Regions from separate parts of the Homo sapiens genome. Here region 2 is linked to region 1. The links come from fine-mapping of genetic effects on gene expression. A gene starts in region 1. The other region holds a variant in brackets. All regions are shown on one strand. Distances are between the middles of the regions.

The links. PIP is the estimated chance that this variant, and not a neighbour inherited with it, causes the effect.
Region 2: its variant is the best candidate, but not a certain one, in a credible set for the expression of CEP20 in aorta (GTEx, PIP 0.68).

What each region holds. Positions count from the first base shown.
Region 1 is chr16:15,886,009-15,891,532 of GRCh38, forward strand. CEP20 (centrosomal protein 20) reads right to left here and starts at 2,595. Exons shown (of 5, transcript NM_144600.4): 1 at 2,550-2,595. The coding sequence starts at 2,577.
Region 2 is chr16:15,861,299-15,866,298 of GRCh38, forward strand. It overlaps CEP20 (centrosomal protein 20), which reads right to left. Exons shown (of 5, transcript NM_144600.4): 5 at 4,421-5,000. Among named protein-coding and RNA genes, the nearest start is that of MYH11, 6.8 kb to the left of the region's middle. The variant C/T (reference allele first, on the strand shown) is at 2,154.

The DNA of each region.
Region 1 (5,524 bases):
GAACACATCTCATCCACAGAGTCAAGAACAGAGCAAGAGCTCAGTAGGTGTCACCTAGAAGGATTATAATACATTGCTGTACACTACTGGGAAATCAATGTAGTTTAACACTGTTCTGCACCCTGCCAAAGGCACCAAGTAAGTACATCACAATAACAAAAATCCATAAAGAGAGCCCAGGAGCTTATCCAAGTCAGTATGGACATAAGATCTTTCTAAGCTTCAATAAATAACGTCAACAATAACCCTGGATCATATGACTAAAGAGATAGAATCTTCACTGACTTTTGACCTTTCTTTCCCCTCATTTTTAAAGCATCCCTTCAACCTTCTTGCAGATAGGTTAAGTACAGTTATCACCAGATCAGAGTTTGTAACAGGTCCATAAAAGGAAGGTACAGCCTTATTGTACTCTTAGAATCATAACTGAACCCCTATTCTCTAATTCCATCTTTGGAAATTGGATGGAGAGATTTTGTCACTGGCAAGGATCCTGTCCCAATTACTCTGTATTGCACACAGGACAGCCTCAAACTGGACAGAGAAACGAGAATTAGTGACAGTGGAATGAGGAAAGCTAGCATGTCTCATCAGCACCTCAGTGGTGGATTACCAACCCATGCCTCAGTTGCCTTCTCTAAAATAATGAGCTCTACCTCTCAGAGATAGAACCAAGTAAGAAGGAAAAACGTGATCGTGCTTAAAAAAGGTAAATGCCCATAAAATGTAAGGTAACTGGCTGGCAAACAAGTTTTCACCGGGTTTCTTTTGGAGGTCCATAGCATTTTACCTTTCCCTCTATTATGCTTAGAACACTGCGCCATCAAAACTTCTTCGGAAAGGTCTTAACCTCGCTTATATTTCAAGAGTACCTTTTTTATTTTATTTTTTAATTTGTTTTTTTTTTTGAGACAAGGTCTCATTTTGTTGCCCAGGCTGGAGTGCAGTGGCACCACTGTAGCTCATTGTCACCTCTATCTCCTGGGCTCAAGCTATCTTCCTGTTTCAGCCTGTGGGGTAGCTGGAACTACCACAGGCCACTATGCCCGGCTCTTTTTTTTAATTTTTATTTTTTAAATAAAGATGGGGTCTCACCATGTTGGCCAGGCTGGTCTTAAACTTCTGGGCTCAAGCGATCCTCCCAAAGTGTTAGGATTACAGGCATGAGCCACTGTGCTTGGCCCATTCCAAGTGTACCTTTAAATCCTCTGAAAATGTATGCAATATTACATGTGATGTGTATTTCCCTGGGAACAGCATCTGTAGACTCGTGAAGTCTGTTCTTGTGGACAGATGCATGCCTGTTCTGTTTTATGATTGTTCACCAGCCCTGTCCCCAAATACACACTTTTATACACGTCTCCTCCCTAAAATATCTAAGAATTACTAGTTTAAACCCTGGGTTCCCTGCAAAGTGGAACTGGTTTTATTTTTTGGACAGCAATCTTGCTCAGTGATTAAGACCTGGCGCTCCAGTGCGTCACAACTAGGTTCCCATGCTGTGTCTCTTTCCAGTGAAATCACTTTGAGCTATTTCACTTCTCAGTACCTCGTTTCCCAGTCTATGAAATGGGCATAGGGTTGTTACAATCAGGTAACACACAGGCTGAGTTGAGTAGTGCCTGACACATGAGGCTCAATGATAACTATTATTACTATTACTTGTCTGGACATTTGCTTCAAAGTAAACAGCGTACAAATGTCATTAATGACTCAAACATAACTAGCTTAGAGTATCTTTTCCTGAAAAGACAGGAGAATGGCCAGGCCAGCAAACTTTTTGCCTCTAGTTTCTTCTGATGAAAAAGGGGCCAGGCGCTCACACCTGTAATCCCAGCACTTTGAGGGGGCCAAGGCAGGAGGATAGCTTGAGACCAGGAGTTCGACAGTAAGACCCCGTGTCTACAAAAAATACAAAAATTAGCCGGGCGTAGTGAAGAGCCCCTGTATTCCCACCTGCTCTGGAAGCTGAGGTGGGAGGATAGCTGGAGTCCCGGAGTTCGAAGCTGCAGTGAGCTGTGATCGCGCTACTGCACTCCAGCCTGGGCGACAGAGAGACCCTCTCTTTAAAAAAAAAAAAAAAAAGCAAGGAGGGGAGGGCTACTTAACAGGTTGTTGTAAGGACCCAACGAGACAACCAAGCAAATTGTTTAGGGCAGTGCCTAACCCAATAGGGGTTGTGGGAATTGTAGTCATCAGCCCTGAGTGCCAAGCCTGGTCCAAGTCCTCCAGCCCCCGGCAGGGTCCAAGAAGATGAGCCAGGGGCCCAAGATGCAGGCCTGTAGGCCTCTTAGATGCCTGAAGATTACGCAACTCCTCCTTTAGCTCCAAACTGGCTTAAAACTCGCCAGTGGGCAACCTCTTCCCCATAAGAGCTCCCCGCGCACGGGCCAAGACAGCAGCCAGACGCTCCCCGCAGGCCCTCACACCGAAGAATGACGCCTGTAAAAGCCAACCCATGTGTTCCGCGCGCTCTCCTCCCATCCCATCCTTTCCACAAGATGAAGGCCCGACGCTTCCCATGTGGAGGCCTCCCTGCTCGCACTCACCAGCCTTCAACTCTGCCACAGTCGCCATTTTTCAACGGCCGCCAGGGCCGCACCGCGGCCCTGCGCACGCGCAGCTCCGCCCCACTCACCCTGCGGCGTGGTCTGTAGCCAATAGGCGCACAGCTCTCGCCCCGCCCACTTCCGCCCCTCTCAGTTTATGAGCTCTGCGGTTGAGTGGGTAGTGAATGTCGACCAGAGACTCCACCAATCAGCGAGCGCTCTCGGAAGGCCCAGTTGAGTGAGACGGCAGGGAGGGCGGGGACTGAGGCAGTGGAGAGCCCTGTGGGGTGCTGCTGGCACCTTAGTGCTTAACTTTAGCCAGCTGAGTTTTTCATTGTCTCTGCAGCCTCAAGTACCAACTGCTAGTAGTTACCACCTATTAACCCTGCGGTTCTCAAACTTGAGCATGAATCCTCATCACCTCCAAGACTTGTTTAAACGGATTGTTTGCTAGTCCTCCCCATAGAGTTTCTGATTCTGTAAATCTGGGGTGAGGCCCTAGGATTTGCATTTCTATCGAGTTCCCAGGTGGTACTGGTACTGCTGGTCGGTCTGGAGATCACACCTCGAGAACCACTGTATTAAGCACTTACTGTGACGCCTTAGCGCATTATTTCCTTATGATCACGCCGTTTTTACAATGAAGGAAACAGAGTCCTCCATCGCTGAAGAGACTTAACCAAGGTCACCAGCCTGTCCTCTTCCACTCGCACTTACACAGTGCATGTAAGGAGTCCAGGAGCTTTTTATGGAACTAACTAATGAAGGAATAAGCTCCAACATCCCATGGAAGTAAAGGAAAAGGAACAGGGGAATAATGTACCCTAAACTGAGTGTGAGGTTGCATGATTCCAGTTGTAATGCCGGTGAGATCCAAACACTTGGCTAAATAATAAACATCGATTAGACGTACACCTAAGAGTGGCCGGGCGCGGTGGCTCACGCCTGTAATCCCAGCACTTTGGGAGGCCGAGGCGGGCGGATCCCGAGGTCAGGAGATCGAGACCATCCTGGCTAACACGGTGAAACCCTGTCTCTACTAAAAATACAAAAAATTAGCCGGGCGTGCTGGCGGGCGCCTGTACTCCCAGCTACTCGGGAGGCTGAGGCAGGAGAATGGCGTGAACCCGGGAGGTGGAGCTTGCAGTGAGCCGAGATGGCACCACTGCACTCCAGCCTGGGCGACAGAGTGAGACTCCGTCTCAAAAAAAAAAAAAAAAAAGTACACCTAAGAGCTGCCAGGGCACGGTGGTTTACGCCTGGAATCCCAGCACTTTGGGAGACTGAGGTAAGGAGTTCGAGAACAGCCTGGCCAGCCTGGTGAAACCCCCTCTGTACTAAAAAAAAAGTACAAAAATTAGCCGGGCGTGGTAGCAGGAGCCTGTAATCCCAGCTACTTGGGAGGCTGAGGCACAAGAATCGCTTGAACCTGGGAGGCAGAGGTTGCAGTGAGATGAGATCGCGCTACTGCACTCCAACCTGGACGACAGAGCGAGACACCGCCTCAAAAAAAAAAAAAAAAAAAAACCACCTAAGAGCAAGGAAACCTCTTTCCGAGGAACTTCCAGCATACTTTTGGTTCCATGCCTATTGTTTTTAAAACTGATACATTGGCCAGGTGCGGTGGCTCATCCCTGTAATCCCAGCACTTTGGGAGGACGAGGAGGGAGGATTGCTTAAGCTCGGGAGTTTGAGATCAGCCTGGGCAATGCAAGACCCCATCTCTCCAAAATAAATACAAAAAATTAGCCGGGCATGGTGGTGCATGCCTGTAGTCCCAGTTACTCCAGAGGCCGAGGATAGAGGATTGCTTGAGCTCAGGAGTTCTAGACCAAGCTGGGCAACATGAGACGCATTTCTACAAAAAAAAAAAAAAATTAGCCAGATATGATGGTGCATGCCAGCTACTCGAGAGGCTGAGGAGAGAGGATCACTTGAGCCTGGACGGCTGATTGTACCACTGCACTCCACTCTGGGCGACAGAGTGAGTCCCTTTCTCAAAAAAAAAAAAAAAAAAAAAAAAAAAAGAAAAGAAAAAGAGAGAAAGAAAAATTGATATATCACAATTATGGGGAGGGACGTGATATTTTGATACACATATACAATGTGTAATTATCAAGTCAAGGCAATTGGGATAAACATCACCTCAAACATTCTTTGTGTTGGAAGCATTACAAGTATTCTAGCTATTTTGAAATATACAATCAATAATTGTTAACTATTTTTTTTAAAGGGAGGGGGAACAGCCTGGGCAGCATAGGGAGAACCTGTCTTTAAAAACGAGCAAACAAGGCCGGGTGCGGTGGTTCACGCTTGTAATCCCAGCACTTTGGGAGGCCTGAGGCAGGCAGATCACAAGGTCAGGAATTCGAGACCAGCCTGGCCAACACAGTGAAACCCCATCTCTACTAAAAATACAAAAATTAGCCGGGCGTGGTGGCAGAGGCCTGTAATCCCAGCTATTCGGGAGGCTGAGGCAGGAAAATTGCTTGAACCCAGGAGGCAGAGGTTGCAGTGAGCCAGGGGTGCAGAGGTTGCACTCCAGCCTGGGGAACAGAGTAAGACTCCGACTCAAAACAAAACAAAACAAAACAAAAGAGCAAACAGCCAGGCACGGTGGCTCACGCTTGTAATCCCAGCACTTTGGGAGGCCGAGGAGGGCAGATCACCTGAGGTCAGGAGTTTGAGACCAGCCTGGCCGACATGGTGAAACCCCATTTCTACCAAAAATACAAAAATTAGCTGGGCATGGTGGCAGGCATCTGTAATCCCAGCTACTCGGGAGGCTGAGGCAGGAGAATCGTTTGAACCTGGGAGGTGGAGGTTGCAGTGAGCCGAGATCACGCCGCTGTGCTCCAGCCTGGGCGACAAGAGTGAAACTCCGTGTCAAAAAAAACCAAAACGAACAAACAAACAAAAAAACCGAGCAAACAAAACAAAAAATTAGCCTGGCATGTGTCCCTGTAGTCCGAGCT
Region 2 (5,000 bases), 25 kb before region 1:
AGACAGCCAAGGGGAAATTTCTCTCTTATAGTCTTTTTTTGCTGTTGGCTTAAAAAAGCCCCAAAGTGGCTGGGCATGCCTGTAATCCTAGCACTTTGAGAGGCTGCAGCGGAAGGATCGCTTGAGCCCAGGAGTTCAAGAACAGCCTAGGTAACATAGCAAGATCCCTGTCTCTACAAAATAATAATAATAATAATAATAATAATAATAATAATAATAATAATAATTAGTCGAGCACAGCAGTGTGTGCCTGTAGTCCCAACTAGAGAGTGAAGTAGGAGGATTGTTTGAGCCCCAGAGTTTGAGGCTGCAGTGAACTGTGATCGTACCAGTGCACTCCAGCCTGGGCAACAGAGCAAGACCCTGTCTCAAAAAAACAAAACAAAACAAAACCATGAAGTGTGATCCCCTCCAATTTTTAGTAACATCGAAGATTGGGTCTGAGCATGGCTTACTCCTGCATGTGCCTCAAGATTTAATATTTTTTGGCCGGGCACAGTGGCTCACACCTGTAATCCCAGCACTTTGGGAGGCCAAGGTGGAGGGAACACTTGAGGTCAGGAGTTCGAGACCAGCCTGGCCAACATGGTAAAACCCTATCACTACTAAAAATACAAAAACTAGTCGGGTGTGGTTGTGCACGCCTGTAGTCCCAGCTACTTGGGAGGCTGAGACAGGAGAATCCCTTGAACCTGGGAGGTGGAGGTTGCAGTGAGCCAAGATCACACCATTGCACTCTAGCCTAGGCTAGAGAGAGAGGCTCCATCTCAAAAAAAAAAAAAAGAAGATTTAATAATTTTAAAGTGTTATCAGCCTTGATCTACTTGACTCATATAGAGTCAGGTAGATCTGGCCCAAGATCTGTGAATAAAGGAACATCGTTCCTGACCACAAGCAGGGCCATGCTCCAACTCTTGCACAAAAGCACTTTTGTTTCACTCATGGTGGCCCCCATGATGGACCTCACACTTCTCCCGATACTAGACTGCATTGCATAGTAACCTGCAATGCTCTTTCCTTCATCATCAGTTTCCAATTCTGATGTCACGATTTGGTTCATGACATTCCTGATAGATTCTCTATGTCTATCAGGAAGGGTCCTAAAACTCTCAATAAAAGTAGTTCTACAGTTTTTTAAAAATGAAACACACAGGGCACGGTTGCTCACGCCTGTAATCCCAGCACTTTGGGAGGCTGAGGCAGGTGGATCTCCTGAGGTCAGGAGTTCGAGACCAGCCTGGCCAACATGGTGAAACCCCATCTGTACTAAAAGCACAAAAATTAGCCAGGCATGGTGGCGGGCGCCTGTAATCCCAGCTACTCAGGAGGCTGAGGTGGGAGAATCGCTTGAACCTGAGAGGCAGAGGTTGCAGTGAGCCAAGATCATGCCATTGCACTCTAGCCTGGGCGACAAAAGTGAAACTCCGTCTCAATAAAAAAACAAAAACAAACAAACAAACAGAAACAAAAACAAACACGCTCTTACCATATAATCCAGAAAATTCTTCTTAGGATTTGCCCAAAAGAGTTGAAAACTTCTGTCCATACAAAACCCTGCACGCACATGAAGTTTATAACAGCTTTACTCACTATCGCCAAAACTTGGAAGCAGCCAAGATGTCCCTCAGTAGGTGAATGGATACATAACAATGGAATATTATTCAGTGCTAAAAACAAATGAGCTATCAAGGCATGAAAAGACGAAGGAAAATTACAGCTGGGCATTGTGGCTCATGCCTGTAATCCCAGCACTTTGGGAGGTCAAGGCAGATGGATCAGCTGAGGTCAGGAGTTCGAGTTCAGCCTGGCCAACATGGTGAAACCCTGTCTCTGCTAAAAATACAAAAATTAACCAGGTGTGATGGTGGACACCTGTAATCTGAGCTACTCAGGAGGCTGAAGCAGGAGAATCGCTTGAATCAGGGAGATGGAGTTTGCTGTGAGCCGAGATCGTACCACTGCACTCCAGCCTGGGTGACAGAGCGAGACTCTGTCTAAAAAAAAAAAAAGGCAGGAAGAAAACTTAAATGCTTGTTACTAAATGAAAGATGCTAATCTGAAAAGGCCACGTACTGTACGATTCCAACTATACAACATTCTGGAAGAGACAGGAATAGGTGGAGTAGAGAAGATTTTCTAGGGCAGTGACACTC[C/T]TCTGCATGATACTAAAATGGTGAATACATGTCACTAGACATCTGTCCAAAACCATGGAATGTGCAGGCAGTCCCCAACTTATAATGGTTAAACTTAACGATTTTTCAACTTTATGAAGGTGGGAAAATGGTGCATTCAGTGAAACCGTACTTTGAATACCGACAAAACCATGTTTTTTCACTTTCAATACAGTATTCAATAAATTACATGAGATGGTCAACACTTTATTATAAAATAGGATTTGTGTTTGATAATTTTGCCCAATGGTAGGCTAATCTAAGTGACCTGAACATGTTAAGTAGGCTAGGCTAAGCTAAGATGCTCGGTAGGTGAGGTGTATTAAATACATTTTGGGCTGGGCATGGTGGCTCACATCTGTAATCCCAGTACTTTGTGAGGCTAAGATGGGCAGATCACTTGGATTCAGGAGTTCGAGACCAGCCTGGGCAACATAGTGAGATCCTGTCTCTACAAAAAATACAAAAATTCACCAGGTGTGGTGGCATGTGCCTATAGTCCCAGCTATTCAGGAGACTGAGGCAAAGGACCACTTGAGCCTTGGAGGCGGAGGTTGCAGTGAGCCCAGATCGCACAACTGCACTGCAGCCTGGGTGCTAGAGTGAGACCCTATCCAATAAATAAATAAATGCATTTTGACTTATTTTCAACTTGTGATAGTTTTGAGATGTAATCCCATGAGTCAAAGAGCATCTGTACAATACCAAGAGTGAACCCTAATGTAACTATGGACTTTTTGTGATAATAATGTGTCAAAATAGATCCACCCATTGGAATACATGTGCCACTCGATGCCGGATCTTGACAGTGGGAGAAGCTAGACATGCATGGGTGCAGGGGGCAGTCAGGAGCTCTGTGCTTCCAGTCCATTTAGCCATGAACCTAAAACTGCTCTAAAAAACGAGTCTACTTTTATAAAAGTAGTTTTGTTTTGTTTTTTTTTTCCAGAGAATAGTCTCACTCTGTCGCCCAGGCTGGAGTGCAATGGCGTGATCTCAGCGCACTGCAACCTCCGCCTCCTGGGTTCAAGCGATTCTCCTGCCTCAGCCTCCCCAGTAGCTGGGATTACAGGCACATGCCACCACGCCTGGCTAATTTTGTATTTTTTGTAGAAATAGGGTTTTGCGATGTTTGCCAGGCTGCTCTCGAACTCCTGACCTCAGGTGATACGCCCGCCTTGGCCTCCCAAAGTGCCGGGATTACAGGCGTGAGCCACCATGCCCAGCCTAAAGGTAGCTTTTTTTTTTTTATTTTTTATTTTTTGAGACGGAATTTCACTCGTTGCCCAGGCTGGAGTGCGATGGCTCGATCTTAGCTCACTGCAACCCCCACCTCCACAGTTCAAGTGATTCTCCTGTCTCAGCCTCCTGAGTAACTGGGATTACAGGCGCATGCCACCGCGCCTAATTTTTTAATTTTTAGTAGAGATGGGGTTTCATCATATTGGTCAGGCTGGTCTCAAACTCCTGACCTCAGGTGATCCACCCGCTTCGGCCTCCCAAAGTGCTGGGATTACAGGCCTGAGTCACCAAGCCTGGCCAGCAGTTTTATTTCACTTTTATTTTAATAAGATTCCTGAACACCACACAATCCTCGAATCGTGGTTGTTACCAAAAAATCAAGTACCAAGTGGCCGGGAAGCATTGTCCCAAATGCCTTTAAAGGCATATTCTCACAAATGTTCATCTTTCATGTACACTTGGCTTTAAAAGAACACATCAAATTTTACATCAACATAAAGGTATGTGAGTGATACACAAATGTGTTCTTGCACATCATTATAAGGCTATTAGTTTGTTCTGTGCAAGCATATACACTAAGCTTAAATTTATCTTCTTCAAAAGCCACCTCTGCTCCTGCTATGAGGTTTTAGATCACCCAAGTTGTACATTTCCTAAATCCCTCTTCAGTTCCCATTCCCATCCTGTTTTTGTGTAAATCCAAGTTTTCTCCTAAAACTTCTGGAGCATCTCTAGAAGATAAGTTCTCCCGACAATTCCAAGAAACCCACGAGTAAGGTACTTAAATATAACACATTTATGAGAAGGGTTGGCTTGTCCTCTGTGCTTTTCCTTCCTTCCTATAAACATGTGCAGACGGCAGGAAAGTACCCCCGCCTCCACCCCTCAACAGCGAAGCTTCTGAAGATCCCGACGGAAGGCATGGCAGCCATCTCCAATCATTCTTCTGTTTTTGATGTGTGGCTTTTGATGAGAGAACAGTGATATGAACACCCTTTGCACCAAAGTGACTTGCTTATTTTTTTTATTAAATGATACATTGAAAGTATAAAAAGTTGCCGCAGTACAAACAAATTACAGAATAATGCATATAAAAGCGCTATGGACTACACGTGACAATTCTGCTTAACTTCCATCTTGATGATTTTATATCAGTATCCAAAATTATATACTCCAGCATTTTTTCCGAATATAGTCTTACATGATTGCAATTCCTGAGGTAAACTAAGTGTCCACTGCCAACATCCTTGGACGAAAACCAAGTCCCCCGGGAGAATTCAGATATTTATATTCACACATACAATACAACGGAATTCATCAATGTAATCAGATATTGCAGATTTAAAAATGGAAAATGGACTCTTGCAATACTTCTGCATCCATATATAATTTTACCAGCAGGGCCTCCCAAAATGTTGTGTAAGTATAGTTTAAATGGATTTCATTAATAAGTTTCTGCATTTAGATAAAAATTCTTGGCTAATCTGTAAGAAGTGAACACTGACTAGCATTGCCAAACAGAAAATCAAAAGTTTCAACAATTTGCAAAGCAGCACAGAATTGACACCCTAAAGAGGATGCCAATTT